7 linked regions of the Homo sapiens genome follow. The protein of the gene in region 2 interacts with the protein of the main gene of each other region in a pairwise test. Each region holds a gene or a part of one and is shown on either strand. Other genes may lie near its edges.

The links.
Region 1: the proteins of BAG4 (region 2) and KCTD7 interact in binary tests that used the Homo sapiens proteins (3 or more experiments, as listed by UniProt).
Region 3: the proteins of BAG4 (region 2) and SAMD4A interact in binary tests that used the Homo sapiens proteins (3 or more experiments, as listed by UniProt).
Region 4: the proteins of BAG4 (region 2) and FYN interact in binary tests that used the Homo sapiens proteins (3 or more experiments, as listed by UniProt).
Region 5: the proteins of BAG4 (region 2) and ZBTB5 interact in binary tests that used the Homo sapiens proteins (3 or more experiments, as listed by UniProt).
Region 6: the proteins of BAG4 (region 2) and RUNX1 interact in binary tests that used the Homo sapiens proteins (3 or more experiments, as listed by UniProt).
Region 7: the proteins of BAG4 (region 2) and ATOSB interact in binary tests that used the Homo sapiens proteins (3 or more experiments, as listed by UniProt).

The regions. Positions count from the first base shown.
Region 1 is NC_000007.14:66,635,381-66,638,880, reverse strand, and holds part of KCTD7 (BTB/POZ domain-containing protein KCTD7), read right to left. Parts: intron 629-3,500; coding exon 450-628; intron 26-449; coding exon 1-25. UniProt on the Homo sapiens protein: May be involved in the control of excitability of cortical neurons.
Region 2 is NC_000008.11:38,186,855-38,190,354, forward strand, and holds part of BAG4 (BAG family molecular chaperone regulator 4), read left to right. Parts: intron 1-3,500. UniProt on the Homo sapiens protein: Inhibits the chaperone activity of HSP70/HSC70 by promoting substrate release. Prevents constitutive TNFRSF1A signaling. Negative regulator of PRKN translocation to damaged mitochondria.
Region 3 is NC_000014.9:54,699,628-54,703,127, reverse strand, and holds part of SAMD4A (protein Smaug homolog 1), read right to left. Parts: intron 1,067-3,500; coding exon 548-1,066; intron 1-547. UniProt on the Homo sapiens protein: Acts as a translational repressor of SRE-containing messengers.
Region 4 is NC_000006.12:111,663,953-111,667,452, forward strand, and holds part of FYN (tyrosine-protein kinase Fyn), read right to left. Parts: intron 1-3,500. UniProt on the Homo sapiens protein: Non-receptor tyrosine-protein kinase that plays a role in many biological processes including regulation of cell growth and survival, cell adhesion, integrin-mediated signaling, cytoskeletal remodeling, cell motility, immune response and axon guidance.
Region 5 is NC_000009.12:37,441,451-37,444,950, forward strand, and holds part of ZBTB5 (zinc finger and BTB domain-containing protein 5), read right to left. Parts: intron 1,106-3,500; 5' UTR 1,102-1,105; coding exon 1-1,101. UniProt on the Homo sapiens protein: May be involved in transcriptional regulation.
Region 6 is NC_000021.9:34,790,803-34,794,302, forward strand, and holds part of RUNX1 (runt-related transcription factor 1), read right to left. Parts: intron 1,809-3,500; coding exon 1,333-1,808; 3' UTR 1-1,332.
Region 7 is NC_000009.12:35,109,363-35,112,862, forward strand, and holds part of ATOSB (atos homolog protein B), read right to left. Parts: intron 3,031-3,500; exon of another isoform or gene 2,968-3,030; intron 2,295-2,967; exon of another isoform or gene 2,205-2,294; intron 2,091-2,204; exon of another isoform or gene 1,907-2,090; intron 1,854-1,906; exon of another isoform or gene 298-1,853; intron 269-297; exon of another isoform or gene 1-268. UniProt on the Homo sapiens protein: Transcription regulator that may syncronize transcriptional and translational programs.

The sequences.
Region 1 (3,500 bases), on a different chromosome or scaffold from region 2:
ATCTCCACAATCCGCTCCAAGTGGTCTATAAGGATGAACACAACACCTATCACTAGGGTGAAGAGGCAGGACAGGGCAGCAGAGATGCACAGAGAAACAGTCCTGAAGATGGCAGGATGCAGGAGGGGAAAGACAGATTTCCCGGGGAAGGGACTCAGGGGGCCAATGAAGGGCACAAACTTAAACAAGGGTCACGGTTCTCCACAGCAAAGGGAAGCCAATGGGACGAGGGCTGTCCTTCTGAAATACAATTTGCTAACTGTCATAGGCCAGGTAGGCCCACCTTAACCTGAATCTCCCCAGCGTGACTGGGAAGGGATGACACTCCATCGCATCTTGAGTAATCTGGATGAATGCTGCCCCCGGTGTTCTGATGGAGACCTAAACACTCACAGATGCCTTGCAGACCTCCTCCCACATACCCACCATCCTGGGCAGCTGACCCTCACCTTTGTAATAGGGCATGAGTCCCAGAAACGCTTGGCGCACCTTCTCGCCCTTCAGTGGCTGCATGTTCTCCAGCTGCTCCAGGAGGGGCCCGATGGCATAGTACTGGGCCTCTTTGTACACAGCTCGAACACGCTCCCTGGGTGGGAGGTCCCCTGAGCGCAGGAAATTCAGCACATCTCTAAGCAGGAAGGAAAGAGGGTCGGTGACAAGGAGCTTATGCTCCTGGGCAGTGCCACACAGTGTGCATTGGACAAAATCTAAAACCAGACTGCCAGCTGTGTTACACTGGGTAAATGAACTTAACTACTCCATGTCTCAGTTTCCCTGTCTGTAAAATTGGAGAAAACAATAAAACCTCATAATGTGTTAGGGAATTAAGTGATTAGAAAATCCCTGGCACAGAGTAGGGCCTCAATAAGTGTTATTAGTTGTTGTTATCAGTAAGCAACTATAATTACTATTATTAGGTATAATATTAGGTATTATTAGGTATATGTAAGTATAATGGAAAGATATGACACCTAGCCCTTTATATATATATAGTTTTAGAATTGAGGTGAAATATTCAATAAATGTACAAATATTAACTGTACAGTTCAGTTGTTTTTTTAAGTATGAATATACCCATCCAACCATCACCTAGATCAAGATGAAACATTTCCATTCCTTAAGGTTCCTCATGCCACTTCCCAGTTAATCCCTACGGAAGCAACCACTCTAACTTCTCCTTCCATCAGTAAAGATGAGTTTTGCCTTTTCTTGAAATATATATATAAACAGAATTATATAGTATGTTCTCTTTCATACCTGGCTTCTTTCCTTTAACATAATGTTTTTGAAATGTATCCACCAAATAAATAATAAAAACAAACCAGTAGTTTGTTTTTTTGTTTTTATTAGTTATTATTCATTATGTAAGTATACCCTTGCATGAATATGGTGTAATTTATTTACCCTGTTGTCTTGTTGATGGACATTTGGGTTGTTTCCAGTTTTTGGCTATTATGAGTAAAGCTGGGATGAACATTCCTATATAAGACCTTTAGGCCAGGCACGGTGGCTCACACGTGTGATCCCAGCACTTTGGGAGGCCGAGGTGGGTGGATCATCTGAGCTCAGGAGTTTAAGACCAGCCTGGCCAAAACGGTGAAACTCCATCTCTACTAAAAATACAAAAATTAGCCAGGTATGGTGGTGGGTGTCTGTAATCCCAGCTACTCTGGAGGCTGAGGCAGGGGAACTGCTTCAACCTGGGAAGTGGAGGTTGCAGTGAGCTAAGATCACGCCACTGCACTCCAGTCTGGGTGACAGTGTGAGACTCCATCACAAAAACAAACAAACAAAAGAAACCTTTAGTGGACACAAGCACAAATTTCTTTTAAGTATTAGCAGTAGAGTCATTCAGTCATAGGGTAAGCACGTGGTTAACAAAGTGGTTGCAGCATTTTACATTCCCAACAGCAATGCAGAAGAGTTCTAGGTGTTCCCCATCCTTGCCACTAGTATTATTCTGTAGCTATGCAGAGCAGGTAAAATGCCTAACTCTAATGTCTGAACAAACTGGTTTCAGGGCTGAATAAAATCACATATTGCATTTTCTTAAAATAAAAATTCAGTCCTTCTAATTCACTTTTCAGATTTTTTTTCTTCTTTTTTAAGAGATAGGATCTTGTTCTGTCACCCAGGCTGGAGGGCAGTGGTGCAATCATAGCTCACTGCAGCCTCTAACTCCTGGGCTCAAGCAGTCCTCTTGCCTCAGCCTCCCGAATAACTGGGACCATAGGTGCAAGCCACCAGCTTTTTAGATTATTTAGTGCTCAGAGTAATCAGATACATCACCCGTACGTGCGGAAGACAGTGAGTAAACCCCAAGATAATGCTGCTACCTCAATAACAGCTTAGTCTATGACCTAATACAACACCAGCTAACACTCGCTAAGTATTACTCCATGCCAGCCACTATTCATGGGTTATCCCATGTAATCCTCTCAATGACATTGGGGGTGTGTGCTATCTTATCTCTATGTCATAAATGAGGCTCAAGTGGGGCCCAGACAGGTTCAGGAACATGCTTGCTCAAGTAGCCACCGCTGCCAGAGGCTCAGATCCAGCCATGGCTGATTCTACACCCACATCTACCATGGTCCAGCTTCAGCAGAAACATTTAGACCAGAGTGCAGCAAGCTGATGACAATGGGGAACGACCCCAGACTGAGGCCCAAGCAGCCTTCACGGTGGACGCTAGGGATACATAAGCTGTATAGTAAGAAATGCACCCTACGAAATGCCCTGAACCGCCTATTTTATCTGAGTCATTCAACAACTTCATCTGCTGCTGATGAATCATAGGTCACAGGAGCTCATCAGCCAAAGTAAGAATGTCGCCATCTCCTGCTTTCTGCCATGCCCTTGCCTGGCGCTGTCACTCTCTAGCTGTGGCCACCTGAGCATGGGCACATCCACCTCAAGTCAAACCCAGAACCCCTCCCCAAAATCCCTTCTAGATCTTCAGCAAACCTTGGTGAGCTCTGAAAAACAAAACCCTGGGGCAAGGCCCAGCTAAGGGTGCTGTGGGAGCTGCTAGCTGGGGCCGGCACTTTCCTTCCCCAAACAGCCCGCAAACAAACATCTTTTTATAGTTCTGCAGAGCGATGTGACACTTTGTTTTCTCAGCATTGGAGGCAGCTGATAGCCCACTGGGGAAACCCAGATGCTTCCAAGCAAGTTATTTGACCAGGGGCTCCTTTCTGAGAATAAAAATGATCTTTCCCACAATGTGGGCAATCCTTCTTGGAGGCCAGCACAGAGATGTAGTGGTTGGAGAGTTTCTGCCTCCTGGGCACTTGGTTCAAGGTCTCTAGTCATCTCCAATGTCAGACTGAAGGAGCTAAGAGTTCCAGCCACGTACTCTGAAAAGGACATGGCTAGGGGTCACACCAAGGCTCTTTATATAATCCTCTTTGACAAGCCTGTGCAGCAGCTATAATTATTTCTCATTTCACAAACATGGAACCCCTGAGACATAAAGTCTTTAAATTGTTTACATGTAA
Region 2 (3,500 bases):
GTGCCTTCTAATGAGCAATATCACATACTTCATACTTGAAGTTTGAGGGCAAACAGACTTTGCAAAAATAATCCAGCTGGTTACTAAACAAATGAGCAAATGACAATAACAAGCCTAAGGTGGAAAAGGTGGGACCAGTAGTACTCAGAGTTGCTAAAATGTCTAGTTTCCAACAAAGAATTATGAGCTATGCAAAGACACAGGAAAGTATGACCCATACACTGGAAAAAAAGCAGGTAACAGAAACTGATTGTGAAAGTGACCAGATGTCACATTTAATAGACAAAGACTTCAAAGTAGCCATTATATATGTTCAAATAACTAAAAAACTATGATTAAAGAAGCAAAGAAAGGTGTGTGATAATGTCATGTCAAATAGGGAATATCAATAAAGAGATAGCAATTATATATTAAAAAAGAAACAAATAGAAATTCTGGAGTTGAAAAGTACAGTAACTAAAATGAAAAATTAACTAGAGGAGTTCAATAGGCTAGAACTGACAGAAGAAAGAATTCATGAATTTGAAGATAGATCAATACAGATTATGCAATATGAAGGAGAGAAAAAAGACTGATGTGTTGGAGAAGTGTCAGACACCATTGAACACACCAGCATATCAGAAATGATTAATAACAAGGTTAATATAACAAAAGATGCAAATATGCTCTTTTCTTCTCAGATTCTTTAAAAGACATTATATAAAGTAATAAGTATAACAATATAATGTTGAGTTTGTAACATTTGTAGACATAATGTGGATTACAATAAAATCACAAAAAAGGGGAAAAGGAACAGACTTATATAGGAATAGCATTCCTGTATCTCACTGGAATTAAGTTGGTATAAATCAGAAGCTGATTCTGATGAGAAGCATATTGTTAGCCCAGCTGGGTGCTGTGGCTCACGCCTGTAATCCCAGCAATTTGGGAGGCCAAGGTGGGCAGATCACAAGGTCAGGAGATCGAGACCATTCTGGCTAACATGGTGAAACCTTGTCTGTACTAAAAATACAAAAAAAAAAAAAAAAAAAAATTAGCCGGGCGTGGTGGCGGGCGCCTGTAGTCCCAGCTACTTGGGAGGCTGAGGCAGGAGAATGGCATGAACCCGGGAGGCGGAGCTTGCAGTGAGCCGAGATCGTGCCACTGCACTCCAGCCTGGGTGATAGAGTGAGACTCCGTCTCAAAAAAAAAAAAAAAAAAAAAAGGAAGAAGAAGAAGTGTATTGTTAGCCCAAGAGTAACTGCTAAAGAAAAAAAAAGTATAATCATTAAGTTATAATGCTACATTTGAAAATATTCACTTAATGCAAAAGAAAGCAGTAAAGGTGGAATAAAGGACAAAAACACATGAGACATATAAAAAACAAAAAGTAAAAATAAAACATGTAAATCCAGCTATATCAATAATATTAAATGTGCATGGATTAAGCAATCTAGTCAGAAGACAGACTGGATTAAAAAAAAAACAAGATCCAATTATATGGTGTCTAAAGGTGGCACACTTAAGGTTTAAAGATACAAATAGTTTGAAAGTAAATGGATGGAAAAAGAAATATAATGCAATAAAGAAAAGATAAATGTTTGAGGTGTCAGATATGCCAGTTACCCTGTTTTGATCATTACACTTTATATACATGTATCAAAATATCACATGTATCCCAAAAATATGTACTACTTTTATTAATTAAAAATTACATATATGCACATATAAATACATATATATACGTGTATACACATATATATATGCATGTATACATATATATACATGTACACATATATATACATATATACATGTATACATATATACATGTATACATATACATGTATACATATATACATGTATACATATATATGTATATATATATAAAAATATGCAAAAGGCAACTATGAGAAAGCTGGAGTGGCTACTTTAATATCAGCTTTTTATTTACTTTTTATTTATTTATTTGTTTATCTTTGAGATGGAGCCTTGCTCTGTCACCCAGGCTGGAGTGCAGTGGCACGATCTTGGCTCACTGCAACCTCCGCCTCCCAGGTTCAAGCAATTTTCCTGCCTCAACCTCCCAAGTAGCTAGGACTACGGGTGTGTGCCACCATGCCCGGCTAATTTTTTTTTTTTTTTTGAGATGGAGTCTCACCCTGTTGCCCAGGCTGGAGTGCAGTGGTGCAATCTCAGTTCACTACACCTCTGCTTCCTGGGTTCAAGCAATTCTCGTGCCTCAGCCTCCTGAGTAGCTGCCCGCCACCACACCCAGCTCATTTTTGTATTTTATTAGAGACGAGGTTTCACCATGTGGGCCCGGCCGGTCTTGAACTCCTGACCTCAAGTGACCCACCCACCTCGGCCTCCCAAAGTGTTGGGATTACAGACGTAAGCCACCATGCCAGGCCTGAATTATATACTTTAAATAGGTGAATTGGATGGTAGTGAGTAAAACTTGAAAATAAGAATACCAGTTTTATGAGTAACAACTAATGGATGCAGTTTCGGTTTCTTTGCAGTTCAGCTTGTCCTTAGAGAATAAATTCCACTGAGGACGTACAGTCAAAATAACGTGAGCTAAAAGTCATTTGAAGTAATTCTTTTTTCTCTGTGGTTATGTTACCAACTTGATTGTTAGTTATTGCATTAATTGACTTTTCCTATACTGAAACAACAATTCCAGAATTTTAGTAGCTTATAATGATAAACATTTATTTCTTGCTCAGGTTCTGTGAGTCCACTCTAGTGGTTCTTCTCTAGGCCCCAGGTTCAGTTCAGGTCTACCTGTGTGTCTTCTCATCCTGGGACTTCAGTTGAAAACACAGCTCCCATATAAGATAATGTAGGTCTTGTGGAGGGCATGGGAACACAAGAGGGTTGCTAGAATTTGCAGCGACTCCTAAATCCTTTGTGTGGACTGGCACACTGTCACTTTTATCCATATTTGTTTGTTTTGCATAAAAGGTTAAATTACGTTTTGTTGTTGTTGTTGTTGTTTTGAGACGGAGTCTCCCTCTGTTGCCCAGGCTGGAGTGCAGTGGCGTGATCTAGGCTTGCTGCAAGCTCCGCCTCCCAGGTAGCTGGGACTACAGGCGCCCGCCACCACACCTGGCTAATTTTTTGTATTTTTAGTAGAGATGGGGTTTCACCGTGTTAGCTAGGATGGTCTCTATCTCCTGACCTCGTGATCCACCTGCCTTGGCCTCCCAAAGTGCTGGGATTACAGGTGTGAGCCGCTGCACCCAGCCAAATTATGTTTTTTACTTATGTGAGTTTGTAATGACACCACCACATTCACTATCCCCCAGTTCTTCCTCATTTTGCCCCATTCCATATTTTATCTTTCCTTGTCCTCGTGACAATATCGGTTCCCAATAACACTACTGTATGTATTTATTCTATTCTACAATACACACAATATAGTTTAAAAATTAAGATAGTAATATCACTACTAATAACATTATATGAAGAGTTTAAGATATTTTTAAATTTCTTTTGCTTTTAGAAAGGTACCACTA
Region 3 (3,500 bases), on a different chromosome or scaffold from region 2:
AGGAAAAAAGTGCCCCAACAATTGGGGATTAAAACCAGAAAATGCAAAGGGAGGAAACATTCCAGGGTGAAATTTAAGAAAAAATAAATAAATAAAGAGAAAGAAAGAGGAAAAAAAAAATAAAGAGAAAGCACAAAGCCCATGAGGCTGCCTGGTTAACCATGGGTTAGAATTAGGTTTAGAGAATCACACAGTAACTCAGTGTCTCAGCAAATCCAAAACCCCAGGGTGAAAGACATGGGTGAAATGCATTTCTGATTGTGGAAACGGCAAGTTTCCTTCTTTCATTTATTGTCTATTTATTTTTGGTCTGTTTATAACCCAAATTTGGACCATCAGTCACTTTTACCTTCCCAAGTATTTTCATCTTTGCAGAGTCAAAGAGCAACAAATATGGGGTCCAAAGGACCTTTCCCACAGCCAATTCCAATCAGTCCTTCTCTCCCAGGGTCACAGGGTGCATGGAGCAGACACTGTCAGCAGGACATGCCACATACACAGCAAATCGCCAAACCAGACTACGTTAAAGGGATTCCGGGGAACTTACTTGTACTTGTGCTGGTTCCAATCGTATTGATTGTGGTGGGGACAGATGAGGAGGAGTAGAGGGGCACATGGCCATTCTCACACCCCATGCTTTTGTCCTGCCAGTTGGAGGCATTGATGCAAATCCCAGAATCCCGAGAGTTCTGCCACCCATTGAGCTTGTCATCAGAGTTCTGTCTTTGGTGATAGTAGTGTGTCTGTCCATAATCCACAGAGTCTGAGCGGCCTCGGTTCTGGCCACCAAAGCTGGTCGACGTGCGGTCCTCCAAGTGATTCAGCCACATGGCTAAAGCACTACGGTCTTCTAACGAAGTGGCTGGATGTATCAAAGCATAGGACAGCAGCTGCCTGCTCTCCTCAATGTGCTGGTTGTGTTCAATAGAGTGAGCCAGGATTTTGGGCAGCAGTTTCATATATTCTACTTTCGCGTCGAGGTTTCCTGGCTTCAGCAAAGGCAGATGAGTTAACAGGAGGGAAATCACTTTATCCTTGGATTCCTGTTGCCATTGGTTAATGATTCCTGAAAAGGGAAATATACACGGCAAATAAGCAAATACACCCACAGTGACTCTAAACAGATACTCTAAAGAGAATTTTTATGGATTAGGGTCCCAATCTACATAGTCTGGCTATATTTTCTCAAAAGAGCCTGTGAATCAGATTGGTTAACTGACCCCAGGTTTTCAAGGGCCAGAGGCTCCAATGAAACACAGATCAAACATTCTTAGATATTGAGTACTCAATCAAATTCTCATTCGTGTTTCCAAAAAAGCTACAACTACTTTGGTACAATCAAATACAATGTGCAGCTCTGTTTTCTTTCTGAGAAAGGTCTAGCCTACCCCCTGATAGACAGGGGGCTAAGACTAAGAAGCTCTCCATAGAAAAGTGAGTATGAACAAAGGTCCCATTCCAGAGTCCTGGGGGTGAGGCTGCTTCACCTCCCCCAGACATCTGTTGAAAGTGATTTAAATCCTGGTAAAGGCATTTGTGTGAAATTGGAAAAACTTCCTAGATGGAGAAATTTGTCAGGGAAAAAAAGAGCTCCCCTCATCTCTGTGCAGTAAGACTGCACCTTTCTCATGAGAAGCTAACTCAGAGTGACTATGGGCTCAAAGCTAGAATATGCAATGGACCGAAGACTTGGCTCCTGAGACACCTCTAATTGCTGTTTTGCTTTATGTAGAGATCAGCTTGTTTTTATTGTGGTAAAATACACATAACATTGATCATTTTAATCATATTTAAGTGGATGTTCAGTGGCATTAGGAACATTCACAGGCTGGGGGTGGTGGCTTATGCCTATAATCCCAGCACTTTGGGAGGCTGAGCCAGGAGGATGGCTTGAGCCCAGGAGTTAGAGACCAACTTAGGCAACATAATGAGACCTCATCTCTACAGATAATTAAAAAAGAAATAGCCATGTGTGATGGTATATGCCTGTAGATCCAGCTACTCCAGACGCTGAGGTGGGAGGATTGCTTGAGCTTCAGAGGTCGAGGCTGCAGTGAGCTGTGATTGCACCACTGTACCCTGGGGCTTGGGTGACAGAGGAGACCTGGTCTCAAAAAAAAAAAAAAAAAAAAAATTCACCGTTTCACAGTGGTGTGCAACTATCACTACCATCCATCTCTAGAACCCTTTCATCTTCTCAAACTGAAACTCTAACTACTCTAGGTACCACAGAGAAGTAGAATCATACAGTGTTTGTCCTTTTGTGACTGCCTTACTTCACTGAGCATAATGTCCTCAAGTTTCAAGCTCTGGGAAGATCTGTTTTTAACACACTCAGAAGGATCCTTTCCATCCCCTCTCACTGATTAGCCTTTGAGAAATAGCCTGTCTTGGGATTGACAGTTATTCACAGGCTCTGGGCCAGAGGAAAGAAAGCTCATTTTCAGGGAAGTCATTCCTGACACCTGGAGATCTCAACACTGGCCCACTGATGACCCTACAAGGGCTAGGGCTGGACAGTCCTGCTGGTTTTTATGCCATATCTAGAAGGTTGGAAGGGGTTTCTGGAATTTAGCAGAAGGGCTTAGCAATTCCAGCTAGGTGCAAACATAACAAAACAAGCCCAGTTATCACTGTTGACCATAAGCTACAAATGCATCAGCCTGTGCTGCAATGCTTCTCAAGACTATGGGAAAGAATATTTCAAGAAAAATACCAGCAAAAAAAGAGGCATGGTATATAATGAAAGAGCATGAGCTTTGGAGTCAGGCAAAGCTGGACACAAATCCCAGACATGCCATTTAATTTGTGGTAGAACCTTGGTAAGTTACTTAACTTCTCTGAGCCCCAAATACCTTCTCTGAGCCCCAAATAGCATCTGCCCCTCCATGTGCTGTGGGATTAAATAACGTAAAGTAGCAAAAGGGCTGGTCAAGTACTTGATGATGGAGGTAATTCCTTCAGCTTGTCTCTGCATAGCTGGAATCATGTTAGAGCAATGTGGGTGGTTTGGGATGCCAAGTTTTAAAAAACAAAATATAGAGAAACCAGAGATGACCCAAGAGAAGTCACTAAAAATGATCAAGGAGGTAGAAAGTCAAAAGGTGAAAAGAAAATGGGTTTACTGTGCTTACAACAATATGAAGAGATGCTTGACTCACTTCAAGTGGGATTTCATAAGGAGATGCCAAAGAGTCAACTACTTGTAGAAGTCTCCAAACCGAAGCAGGAGAGATTAAGATAGGACGTGGAGAAGAACAGAATTGCCAGAATAATGAAAGACTCAGAATCACCAAGGAAGGCTTTAGAATCTCTGCCCTGGGGTCTGAATGTTATTCAGTAACAGAGTGAGACGATCTTGAGGAGCACTGTCCAACAGTAATAAAATATAAGCCATATATGGTATTCTAAACTTTCTAGTAGCCATATTAAAGAAGAGACAGAATAAACAGGTAATGTACATTTTAATGATATATTTTATTTAAATAATCAAATTATCA
Region 4 (3,500 bases), on a different chromosome or scaffold from region 2:
CATCCAACGAGCTCTGAACACCATCAAGTTTTTGTAACTCACTTGACTACAGAACTGATCTGAACTGACCTCATCTGGCCACAAAACCTGAACTGATTACGAGGCTATTTACTGTTTTTATTTCTTCATACATATTGCCCAGAAAGATTAGGAAGAGTGTGTAATCACGTAGCAGAACTGGCACTCTCCAAAGCATTTGCCTTGCCGCATCTTTTAGTACTGTCCTTGGTTTCATATTTCAGCAATGACAGAGCTTGGACCAGCAGAAATCTCCCTTGTCTCTGTCCCTTCCAGGAGTCCACAGGAACTGAGGGGAAACAGGCAGAAGGGCCTGACAGATCCTTCTGGGTGCGGTTACAGCCCCTGAAACGCCTCCTAATGCTTGACTCTGGCTCTGAGTGCCTCCCTCCAAAATGGCAGCACAGAGTTTAATTAATCACTCTCCTATTGCTCCACAGAGCGCATGTCAGTACATGTTTCATTTCATTAAAAAACAAACTACTCAAATGGAAAGATTTCACTTAAAAAAAAAGTTTTCATCCAATGTCTGCCAATGGAAAGTTTAATTGGCCACTGGGTCATTTTTCCAGTGCTCGGTCCAAGCCTCAGACACAGCACACTTGGTGATGTGAACCTCAACATGTAGCGTCTCCCGAGGCAGTCTTTCCTGGGCATTTGGAGCCAGGGGACAGGGCATAAGCTGGCCCATGCAGGGTCCTGGCAGACCCACATGGTCAGGCTCCTTCTCGCTCTCCCCTTTCCTGTCTGCACCCCTCCGCTCTTCCCCACTCCTCTTCTTCTCCTGCTTTCTTCTGCCCAGACCTCTCAAAGCAAGGGGAGTATATGAAAACAATTCCACGCACTGGGCCAAGTGGAAACATACCAATGAGGGCTTTGCCAGGAAAGTGGGATATTTTGACAATGCACTTGGCTGACAATGACAATTGGAATGGGACTAGCTCTTTTCCAACCATCCATAAACCAGGACCTGCAACGGGCTGACCTGCAGACCTGGCAACTTCACAATGTACCTCTGCAACAATAACGGTGGCAATCAAGATATGCCCACTCAGCAAGGCTTGGGCTAGTTTTTATTTTATAAACAATAGCTAAATTGAATGGATTGTGTTAATTCAGGGTGAGTATCCCTTCTCTGAAATGCTTATGATCAGGAGTGTTTTAAATTTCAGATTTTTTAGGATTTTGAAATATTTGCATTATAGGGCTGCTCAACCAGTAAGTTGAGCATTCCCTTTGCGTGTTATGTCAGTGCTCAAGAAGCTCCAGATTTTGGTGCATTTTGAATTTCATATTTTTGGATTAGGGATACTTAACCTGTATTTAAAATACAGTATTCTCAGCTATATGAATTTTGAAAATCATGGTTTTTTTAAATAATTTTTTTTAAATGGCTTTTACTCTGCACACTAACAAAAAGATAGGTCTACTTCATTTTTTTCTTCTTAGATGGTTTCATATTTTTGTTAGAAAGAAAACTGTCATTTCCTCTTTTTAGCCACTTTTCCCCAAGACATTGGCTTTACCTAATACCTGAGAGGTGAAGGATAGTGAATAGGAAGGGAATAAACACGAGTTTGGGCACCAGGGCAGTTGGGAGAGTGTCTTGAGAGACATGGGTACACTAGAGAGAGGAATCCTTTTATTTTTTATTTATTTATTTTTTTTTGAGATGAAGCGTGGCTCTGTCATCTGGGGTGGAGTGCAGTGGTGTGATCTCGGCTCACTGCAGCCTCCACCTCCCAGGTTCAAGCAATTCTCCTGTCTCAGCCTCCTGAGTAGCTGGGACTACAGGTGCATGCCACTACACCTGGCTAATTTTTTATATTTTTAGTAGAGACAGGGTTTCACTATGTTGGCCAGGCTGGTCTTGAATTCTTGGCTTCAAGTGATCTGCCCACCTCGGCCTCCCAAAGTGCTGGGATTACAGGTGTGAGCCACCATGCCCAGCCAGAAGAATCTTTTTATTACACTTCCAACTGAGGAGGTGGACAAGAGTGCTGGAAATGTTTTTCCTTTTTCTCCTTTTTTTTTTTTTTTTTTTTTTTTGAGACAGAGTCTCGCTCTGTTGCCCAGGCTGGAGTGCAGTGGCACAATCTCGGCTCACTGCAACCTCCACCTCCCTGGTTCAAGCAATTCTCATGCCTCAGCCTCCTGAGTAGCTGGGATCCTTTTTCTCCTTTCTTAACAGAAAGAAGAGACAGAAACTTTATAAAACATGGTGTCTGAGCACATTTTAGGGAAACAATGTCATAAACAGTTTGGCCTTCCAGGTTTCCTAGTGGGAGCTGCAAGGGAGAGCATTTTTCAACAGGAGGGGAGATCCTGGCTGGCCAGTGGTGTCTGACTGTGGGAAGAGCCACGTTCGAGCAGTATGAATGTTCCCTGGTTCCCACAGAGAGGCGGCTTGGGGCTGGGGAGCCAGCAAGCACAGAGGCCACTGCCCAATTTTGTTCCAACCCTCTCCTCCTCTGCTGTTCTGCCCTTCTAGCCTCACGGGAGCCACCAGCCCCTTCTGCTGTCTCTCTAGAATTGCTCAGGAAAACAGGCCATTGTGGTGGGTCACTTTCATAGGGTACAACTGAACAGTACTCAATCCATAAAACACCTCCAGCACTTCGGGAAGCTGAGGCAGGCAGACCGCTTGAGCTCAGGAGTTCGAGACCAGCGTGGGCAACATGTTAAAACCCTGTCTGTACAAAAAGTACAAAAATTACCTGGGCATGGTGGCATGTACCTGTGGTCCCAGCTGTTCAGGAGGCTGAGGTGGAAAGATTGCTTGAGCCCAGGAGGTTGAGGCTGTAGTGAGCTGAAATGGTGCCACTGCACTCCAGCCTGGGTGACAGAGCGAGACCTTACTAGTCCGCTGTGTGGGGGTCTGCCTTCGAGTCCCTCTTTCCCAGAGCCTCCATGGAACATCTCCTTGTCAACTCAGATTTTAGGCTTTCAAACATGGTCCCCGACATAGCATCATTTCCAGTCAGTCTGCCCCAAACACTGCAACTGAGATTCTCCAGCCAAGAAGACTGTGCTCACTTCCTGCCATTATGATTATATTATCCTTTCTAAATCATGTTGCTGGCTTCCTCCAGCAAACTCAGAGGTCAAGTTTCCAACTCTCACTTTCAAACTCTGACTCTGTAGGGTTGCCAACAGTGTCTATTCTTGTGTGTGTGTTTTCTTTTCCCTTTTCTTTTAAACTTCCCTATTCCACTTCTTTGAGCTGTACATGAACTCAGTAGTCTTCCCTTTTTCCTTTTAGATTCTTTGAAAAAAAATTTTTTAAGGGACAAGGTCTTGCTCTGTCACCCAGCCTGGAGTGCAGTGGCATGATCATGGCTCACTGCAGCCTTGAACTCCTGGGCTCAAGCGATCCTCCTCACACTTCAGTCTCCCAAGCAGCTAGGACTATAGGTATGCACCACCATGCCTGGCTGATTTTTATTTTTATTTATTTTTTTTTTGTAGAGATAGCATCTTGC
Region 5 (3,500 bases), on a different chromosome or scaffold from region 2:
CTTCTCGGCACTGACCACAACTCCTTCCACTTCCACAGACTCGCTGCCTTCTGCTTGTGAGGTCACATCGCTCACTTCATCCTGAGGCTCAGGTGAGCTCAGGGGCTCAGATTTAACCACCACTCTCATGTGCTCCTTCTCACCAAGGCCAACCTCAGGGTTTTCACACTGAAAACTACTTTTCTCAGGTGCAGCTTCCTGATCAAAACTAGTCTCAACCTGAGTTGCACGAGAGGCCATGGACAACTGTGCCATGTTGCCAGCACTGTTATCAGACTGGCTGGGCACCTGGGCATCTTCTTGAGTGCCAAAAGACTGATCAAACATGATCGCACTATCTTCCTGGTTATCAGTCATTCCATCAGCTTTAGGATTATCCACAATTTTCAGAGAATCTGGTGAAAAGAACTCCTCCCGAGAATGAACCCCTGAAGGCCCATTCTCCGGTGTAACATCTGAAATGGCAGACTCATCTATGGAGGGTCGGAGGCGCTGCCTGGCCCGCTCCTCTGCAGACTGCTTGCGCTTATGAAGGCGTCTCATGGGGAAGGGCGTGCGCTGATCCAGGTTACTGCGCATGGAAGAGCTCATGGGGGCTGGCTGCTCCTCGCCATTCTGGCTGGAATTGAGGGCTGAGCTCACGATGCTTAGTCCCAGCTGCTGTAGCATAAAGGAGCGCTGCATGCGGGCGCTCTGCTCCTGAACGCGCTCACTGGGGGGAGACATGGGCAGCGTCCTTGTCGTTAAGTAATGTTTACATGCCTTAACAACAGAGTTCAAATGCAGGTGAGAGGCTGCCAATAAGACATCCATTACATTGCTCTCCCCCAGCATGAGGGTGGAGGTATACATCATGTCAATCAGTGCAGCAAAGGCCTCTGCTGTCACCACCTCGCTATCCAGCTGGATCATGTTCATGGTCTGATCTCCTTCTGCCACTGAGAACAGGGCTCGGAAATGCGTGCTGCATGCTGCCAGCACGGAGCGGTGGGCTTTAAAGTGTCTATTCCCCACTACAATGACACAATCACAGAGCTGGCCATGAAGTCTCTGGTAGTTCAGCTGCTGGAAGATTTGTTCAAAGTGACCAGGAAAATCCATGATCCTACAGAAAAACAAAGAAAGAAAATGTTAAGACCTAGAAAAGCTTCAAAGTCAGAACACAAAGGGTATGATGAAAAGAGTGGAATGGATGGCCAAGCTTGGACCTTTGAAGCCCGTGATATCTCTGATAATGGGCACATACACTAAGAGCTTGTCATATAAGAAGCAAATGGCAATTCAGCCATCAGCCCAGGAGGCATGCACACATGTGGGCCTAGCTACCGACAGGCTCCCCTTTACTCTTCATATGAGCCATGTATAACACTAAGGGTCTAAATTAGTAAAGACCAGTGTGTGAGTGATGGCATATCTATCCCACAGAAGTTTGTTAGAATTCTGCATTCCCTAAGGATGAGGAATGAATACCAAGAAATTCCAAAGTCTTAGGAACCCTAAATAAGTGAAAAGGGCAAATCAATATTAGTGTGGAAGATTTCCAGTTATAGATGGTAGCAGATTGCACACACGCATTTGCCCCGTGCTTTTTCCTGAAACCCCACTAAAATGACACGAAGCCCGGCATGGAGGCTCATGCCTGTAATCCCAGCACTTTGGGAGGCTGAGACGGGCAGATCACCTGAGGTCAGGAGTTCAAGACGAGCCTGACCAACATGATGAAACCCTGTCTCTACTAAAAATACAAAAAATTAGCCAGGCATGGTGGTGCATGCTTGTAATCCCAGGTACTCGGGAGGCTGAGGAGGCGGAGGTTGCAGTGAGCTGAGATCACACCACTGCACTCCCAGCCTGGGCGACAGAGTGAGACTTCATCTCAAAGGAAAAAAAAAAAAAACACTAAAGTTTTTGTTTAAACTTTAAAGGTGTAAACCCACAAGGAAAAAGAGAATGAGAAGGCCTTCAATAGCATTTTGGAAGCTGGGGAGAGGTAAATGAGTGCTAACTGACTCAGCACACCCCAAAAGCGAAAATCCTAAACTGGGCAGCGGATAAAACAACCTAACATATATAAATCTCATTCCCAAAGGCCAAGGAACTGGTTGCCCTTGCCAGGGGAAATGGAATGAAGGTGTGGCTAAGGCAGGAGGCCTGGCTGAAAATCTATCCAATTAAAAAAAACAAAAACAAAAAAACACCAGGATGTGGTGGCGCATGCCTGTAATCCTATAGCACTTTTGGAGGCTGAGGTGGGAGGATTGCCTGAGCTTAGGAGTTTGAGACAAGCCTGGGCAACAAGGTGAAACCCTGTCTCTACCAAAAATACAAAAAATTAGCCGGGCATGCTGGTATGTGCCTTCAGCTACTCAGGAGGCTGAAGGGGGAGGATCACTTGAGCCTGGGAGGCAGAGGCTGCAGTGAGCAGAGATCGCACTGCTGCACTCCAACCTGGGTGACAGAGTGAAACCTGTCTCAAAAAAAAATTAGCCGAGCATGGTGGCGTGCACCTGTGGTCCCAGCTACTTGGGAGGCTGAGGTGGGAGGATCACTTGAGCCTGGGAAGTCAAGGCTTCTGTGAACTGTCACTGGGCCACTGCACTCCAGCCTAAGCAACAGAGCAAGGCCCTGTCTCAGAAAATAAAATAAAAATAAGTGAATGAATAAGAGAAGGAATTAATCAGGTCCAATATCTTGACTACAGAAAGAGAAAAGGAAGAATACAGAGGGTGAAAATGATGTAAGAAATGGTTTTTTGTTTTGTTTTTGAGACAGAGTTTCGCTCTGTTCCCCCAGGCTGGAGTACAGTGGCGCAATGTCGGCTCACTGCAACCTCCGCCTCCCGGGTTCAAGTGATTCTCCTGCCTCAGCCTCCTGACGAGCTGGGATTATAGGTGCACGCCACCACACCCGGCTAATTTTTGTATTTTTAGTAGAGACAGGGGTTTTACCTTGTTGGTCAGGCTGGTTTTGAACTCCTGACCTCAGGTGATCCGCCCACCCTGGCATCCCAAAGTGCTGGGATTACAGGCATGAGCCACTGCGCCCGGCCAAGAAATGGTATTTTTTAAATTTTGAGAACTGAAGAAATTTGCTTATTAAGACTAAAAAGGCCCAACAAGTACTCAAAATATGAAGATACAAATCCCCACACTAGGCTGACATCAGGAATAAAATTGGCATTCGTCTTTGCCACAGCAGCACTAAAAGCTAGAAGATGACAGTTCCTTCAAAATTATCCAAGAAAATGATTTCCAACTTAGAATGCCACACCCAGCTAAACTATTAATCAATTAGGATAAACTAAGGCATTTTCAGATAAGAACCCAAAGGTTTATCCTTTCTCAGGAGGCGACTAAGATTGTAGGAAACAGGAGACCCACCAGAGAAGACAGGCAAAGGGAATCCCAAGGATGATGATGAAGCTCCAGATGACAACTAGGCAGCAGGCCTGGAGAGCAAAAGCAGTCAGACTGGAGCAGGAAGGACTCCAAGGAGTGGGT
Region 6 (3,500 bases), on a different chromosome or scaffold from region 2:
TGCTATAATCGTAACCCCTAAATTCATTGATTTGGTTCCTATGTAAATGTGGCTCCCCTACACAGTTTACTTTGGCTGTGTTCTGTTACACAGCATCTGTGAAATTATCAGATGACCTTGGGGTGAGCAAATCCCTGGGCAGAAATCAAATCCTCTCCAAAGATGTAATTATTGGCACCTGCCTCAACCCTCTGGAACTAGATTGACCTTCTCTGTTTTAAGGAGGAAGTTAGATATGAGACCCTTGTTGAGCCTGGCAGAAAATTCCATACTTCTGATCCTTGGAGTGACCCTCAGTGTCTAAAAATCCTATTAAAAACGTTGCTGCGTGAGCTACTCACTTGTTTGATTAACATGAAAGGGAGTTTAATGTAAACAATACTTCTGGATAACCAAGCGATCACATTACTCATTCTTTTTTTCTAGCCTTCTTCAATGTGATACATTTAACTTTGGCTACTATCAAGAACAAAAGAAAATGTAGTACTTGATATTTTTCTTAATATAAGTACATTTAAATAATTAAAAAATTATCAACACATAAATGTCTGAACATCAAGATACATAAATATCTGGGGATTCCTTGTGGGAATACAGTAGTTAAAAATGACCCAAAGCTGTAGCTGTTTCTCAAAAAAACAAAACAAAACAAAAAAAAACAACTACCCAAAAGTCCAAAAGAAAAGTTAAATAAAACTTAAAGAAAAGGGAATCATATTTCTTTCCATGGTCAAAGCAAGAAAGAAGCAAGCTCAATTTATATATATTTATATAAACGTATATAAAAATAAAAACCACCCAAATGCAAATACGCATTTTGCAATTGATAAGGTGCGGAAAAATTAAAAATAAGAATTAGATGCCAAACAGGGCGAGTTGCATCCCTCCTCTCCCCCCACCCCAACCAAAATTCCACACTCTTTGGAATAAACAACTTGGTTAAAAAGTTAAGTCAAGGGTATAAAATCTTTCTTTTTATTCACAGCATTGCTAAATCAGAAGCATTCACAGTTTCCCTCCGGGAATCTTCCTGTTTGCTTTCCAGCGCGTCCCCTGGGTGCTGGGGCCGGCGGACACCCTCGAGGTGCGTCGCCTCGGACACCTCCGCGAGGGCCGGGGCGCCAGCAGACGGCGGCGGCGTGGGCTTCTGGGCGCAGGAGGCTGCGCGGGCCTGACCTACAGCGAGATCCTGGCCGTCGGGCGCCCTCGGCCCCAGGACGGTGGCCGGGCCCAGGGCCCGGGATCCCGGCGGGCTTGTCGCGAACAGGAGGCCCGCGCGCCCGGAGGCGAAGGCGGCGGCCCGCGGGGCCCAGCCGGGCCAGGCCTGGCGCCTCAGTAGGGCCTCCACACGGCCTCCTCCAGGCGCGCGGAGGGCGCCATGTTGGTGGGGGAGTTGCTGTGGCTGCCCTCGGCCTCCACCACGTCGCTCTGGTTCGGGAGGCTGGGGTTGAGCAGCGCGGAGCCGGTGGAGGCGTTGGTGCAGGGCGGCAGGATGCGCGGCGGCGAGCGCTCGCCGCCCACCATGGAGAACTGGTAGGAGCCGGCCGAGGCGCCGTAGTACAGGTGGTAGGAGGGCGAGCTGGCTTGGAACGGGCCTCCCTGCGCTTGCGACGAGCCGGGGTAGGGCGGCGGCAGGTAGGTGTGGTAGCGCGTGGCCGAGCCCATGGCCGACATGCCGATGCCGATGCCCGAGGTGACCGGCGTCGGGGAGTAGGTGAAGGCGCCTGGATAGTGCATGCGGGGGTCGGAGATGGAGGGCAGCGCGGGGAACTGGCGCGGGTCGCTGAACGCTGTCAGGTCGGGTGCCGCTGCAGGGCGGGCAAGAGAACGGAGCGGAAGTGAGTAGGAGGTTGCGGAGGCCACAGCTCTTCCCTCTGCCCCAGGGGGCTACCCAGGATGATACCGCCTAGGAGGATGGGAAGCCACCCAGGATGCTACTGCTGGGGAGGACGGGGACCACCCGGGATGCTACTCCCAAGAGGACGAGGATTACCCAGGATGCTATACCCAGGGGGACAGGGACCACCCAGGATGCCACCTCCTGAGATGACGAGGATCACCCAGCATGTCACCTCCCAAGAGGATGGGGACTACCCATGATGCTATGCCCAGGAGGTCGGGGACCACTCAGGATGCCACCTCCTGAGAGGACGGAGACCACCCAGGATGACACCACCTGGGAGGATGGAGACCACCCAGGATGCTACCGCCTAGGAGGACGGGGGACACCCAGGATGCTACTGTCCAGGGAGATGGGTTTCTATCAGAATTTACCGCCCAGGAAGATTGGAACCACACAGGATTGCTACCACCTGGGAGGATGGGGGCTACTGAGGATGCTGCTGCCTAGGGAGAGGGTTTCTACCCAGAATCTGCCACCCAAAAAGATGAGGTCACCCAGGATGCTATGCCCAGGAGGACGGGGATCAGGAGGCTGCTACTGCCCAGGAGGATGGTATAATATACAGTAATATAATACGGTAATATAGAATATCATGTAATGTAATATGACATGATATATGAAATGATGTAGTATAGCATAATATGTATAGTATAGATATAATGTGCAATAGTATATACTATAATATGTATAACGTATATAAAATGTTGATATAATCCTAGGGTTGGCAAACTGCAGCCTGCCAGCCAAATCTGGCATTTTTGCATGTCCCAGGAGGTAAGAATGCATTTTACATTTTTTAAATGGTTGAAAAAAAAATCCAAAAAAGAATACTTCCTGACCTGTTAAAATGACAGGAAATTCAAACTTCAGTGTCCATCCATACTTCGGAACACATCCTCACTCATTCTTTCATGTACTGCCTGTGGTTGCTTTAGAGCCACTACTGTAAAGTCAGGTGGTCAGTATAGGGACTGCAGGAGCCACAGAGCAAATATTTATTCTTTTTTTTTTTTTTGGAGACAAAGTCTCGCTCTGTCACCAAGGCTGGAGTGCAGTGGTGTGATCTCGGCTCACTGCACCCACCACCTCCTGGGCTCAAGCAATTCTACTGCCTCAGCCTCCCGAGTAGCTGGGATTACAGGCGCCCGCCACCAGGCCTGGCCAATTTTTGTATTTTTAGTGGAGATGAGATTTCACCACGTTGGCTAGGCAGGTCTCGAATTCCTGACCTCAAGTGATCCACCTGCCTCAGCCTCCCAAAGTGCTGGGATTACAGGCATGAACCACCGTGCCCAGCCCTAAAATATTTATTCTCTGGCCCCTTACAGAAAAAAGTTTGCTGACCCTCTATTTGATCAATATATTAATATACCAATAATATAAATTAATCTGTGATATTAATATAGCAGATGATAATTTGACACTAATGTAAAGGATGCACAAATATGTTACTACTAACACAATATGTTATACATAATATATATCCTAACAATATTAATATATAATAATACATTACACATAGTATTTAGGTTGAATGATAGAAAATTGCCATTTTTATAGGCCTTCGACAGTTGAAAAATTGATAATTTCCTAGTAT
Region 7 (3,500 bases), on a different chromosome or scaffold from region 2:
GCACTTTCCAGGGCCCTCCCGCAAGGCCCTGCAAACTAGAGATAAGGCCGCAGCAGTCAGTCAGCTGGAAGCAACTAGGGAGTACCTCTCCACGCCCCTCCCCCAGTGCTCACACACCCAACACCAAAACCCCAAACCACGGGTGCATAAGATGGTCTTCACTAACTATTCCAGCCCATACTAGGGTGAGGGGAATGTCAAGTTGAAAGCCAGCTGCCCCCAGGGTCAGCCTTCTCTTTTGCTGTCTGACATTCACGGTGCTCTTTCCCCTTCAAGAAGTGCCCTTTGAATGCCTACCCAAGACTTTTCCTCCTTGGATAGGTCAAATGCCATCTCCTCCAGAAAGTCTGCTCTGTCCACCCCAGACCATAAGCATCTCTCCCTTCTCTGAGACCTCACCTATGGCAGTGTTACTACTTCCTGTAAGCTCACTAACAGTTCTGCTCACTCCTGTGGGTAAGGCATCTTCTAGACCGACCATAGAGTTCCTGAGGACAGATCTGTGTCCCACCCCTCCATCCAACCCCAAGTACAGGGGTAAGCACACAGCAGGGCTCAAAAAAAGTAGAATGCAAGTCCCAGACATCTGAGCAGCAGTCCTGAGAGTGGAGAGAAAAATTTCCCAGATGAGAGAAGCAGAGAGATTAATTGTACAAGGGAAAATCAGGAACAGAGGTGGGGGTGGGGAGCAGGCAGAAAGGAGAGATTTGTACCCAGGGACTGAAAAGCTCTCCTACACCAAGTTCCCATCATTGTACCCCACTATCCCATTTCACCAAATTCTCCTAAGAATTGGGATCCCTAAGAAAATCCTGGTTCCCTGTGGTGGGCGGGATGGCTGGAAAGGGCAGAACACCAATCGCAACCTGCACTATCCTACCTGCAACCAACCTTGTCAGAAGGTACAACCTGCACTAATTTCTACCCTTCTTTCCTCCACCCAAGCCATACAGATTCAGGAGGGGCCTTTTCCCTAGCACCACCACTTCCAGGTCATCCCAGTTGCCCTCTTGACCCCTTGCCCTGGGGAAGCCAGGGGATGACATGATGCCCTACTTGACCCCAGCATACCTGGCATCTGCTTATTAACCCCAGAGCCCTCTCAGTTCCCACCCTGTCAACAAGACGCTCTATATTCACTCCCCTGCCACCCAGCCAGTCTGGCTCTAGACCATGGCTTCAAGCTGACTCATGGGGCAGGACTGCAGGGGAGGGGGGCAGGGCAGAGTAGGCCAAGCCTCACTCTTCGTTCAGGGGGTGGGCAGCAGCTGGCATCAAACAGCTGTGCCAGGCTGTGGCTGGCAAGGACTACAGCTCCCAACATGCTGAGGGAGCAAGGCCAGCAAAAACAACAAGTCCCAGAATACGTCTGTACCTTTAGACACTTTTGAGGCCTGGGAGGTGGGTGAGGTGGGTATTGGTATAGGTATCAGCTTCAAGGCTCATTCTCCCCTTCCCTTCAGTATTAAAGATTTCCATTTCTACCATGATCAAGGAGAGTGACAGGATGAATTCCTATCCATGTGCTTTCCACCCTCATCCTATGCAAAGAGAACTGCTGCCAGCTGCTCTCTATTTTGTCCCTACATACATCCACACAAGCTAGGGGGGCTGTTCCCACGGACCACCACTGTGGGTAGGAAGGTCGACTTCTTCTCTCTTACCAACCCCTCGGCCCCCAGCCTAGAGCCCTCTATCTTCAGAGGGGAGAGAGCAGACCTTAGCAGACTCTCTAAACTAAGCCAGGCAGACTCACCTGACTCCTGGACTCCTTCTTCTGGACGATCCCTTACCCCCTGCCCAGCCTCCCAGGTCCCTTCTCACTCCTCTCCTCCCCACAGCCTGGGACAGGCCCCATACTATACTGGAGCTTCGGAGATTTGCTCTTTCCCTCTAGCACACTCACCCCGCTCCCAAATTGGCTCCGCGGAGGTGGCCGCTGCTCCGGGCCCTTCCGTCCCGTCCCGTCCCGGTCCCTCCCCTTGGTTCCCCGGTCCTCCCTGCCACGGGCCCCCAACCCAGACAAAGGGTGGCTCAGGCTGAGCCCTGCTCTGCTAGGCTCTTCGCTGTTCAGCTTCGTGTGCAACACTAGCGGGCCCTGGCGCCCGCAGCCCCCCAGCCGCTGCCGCGCCCCTCCCTGCGACGGTCCCTCCCCGGGGCCGCCCCGGCTCCGCGCCGCCGACTCCACTGCCCCTCTGACTCACAGGCCATTTCCTACCAGCTGATGGGGCCGCCCGCCCCGCCCAGTGCCCCACCACCCGCGCCGCGGCGGCCACGGCCGCCACGCCCCCCTCAGGCTACGCCCTCCCTGGAAAGCGACCATGCTCATTGGTCCATAGGAAGCCAGCCTCCCCGCGACCTCAAGTGCGAGGCACGCCCCCTCCAAGAGGCACACGCCTATTGGTCCATAAGGGGGTAGGCTTACCCAAGGTCGCTCCGCCCTTCTCCTTAACCCGACAGCTGCCGGAGTCCAAAGCAACACCCTGCCCTGCCATTTAACCCTTTCAAAGGCGTAGGCCTTCCACATCTTACCCCTCCGCCCTACTCCCCCGCCCTTCCTCCTTCCAGGACGGTTAATAGGAAGCCCGAGGGCTTTAAAGATACGGTTTGACAACCCTCAAAGTCTGCCTGCTGTCTATACCAGACCCCAGACCCCAAATACCTCACTCCCATTTGTCTTTCCCCACCTTCCAAACCAAAGCTTCAGAGCTGGAGAACTAGTGAAGCCCAGGAAGCTTCCTCCATGCCAGAGAAGAAAAAGGCCTGAGGTGGGACCCTATCTCCTTCCATGTTAAGAAGTGGTACTTTTCCCTCTGTTACTCTTAAATTGATGTTCTTTTGCCTTCTTTAGAGGAGCCCCACGGGTTCCTAAGATAGGGATACATTTTAATCTCAGGGACCAGCATTATTCTTTGTGCCTCTGAACTCCCTTTCTGAGATCAGCCTGCCAGCACTCTTTCTACTCACAGGCCCATGTTCAAGGAGACAGAGCATACAGGGAAGTGGGATAGGAGAGCTTCTGCCCAGAATGGGGGAAATGAGCCCAACTCTTGTGATGGAGCTCAACCCCATGACTCACAGCTCCCTCAAAACTATCCACCCTCCCACTGAGTCACTGGGCCCCAGCCCAGTTCAGACCCAGTCAAATCAAATGGCAGCAGAACCGGCATCCCTAACCCTTGTCCTCCTATTCTTTAAATGACCAGGATGGAAACCTTTGCAAGGATTGAGCATTCAAAGACACTTTCTAGAGGGTACTCTAGAGGTAAACTAAGAAAAGCAATAGTCCTGTCTACCCTGCCCTCTGCACTTGTCAGCAAGTCGGATAATTTGGGACTTAGGAGGCTTTTTCTCCCGGTCCTTCACAGAAGCAGGAGGCAAACACCAGAGCCAAAGAGGGAAAGTCCATTCTTCTACAGTTCAGAGGCCACAGAGAGCCCAAGGTCCTTGTTTCTGCCTTGCCTGTGCTGTGGACCCCCCAGGGCCCTGAGGTTATATCA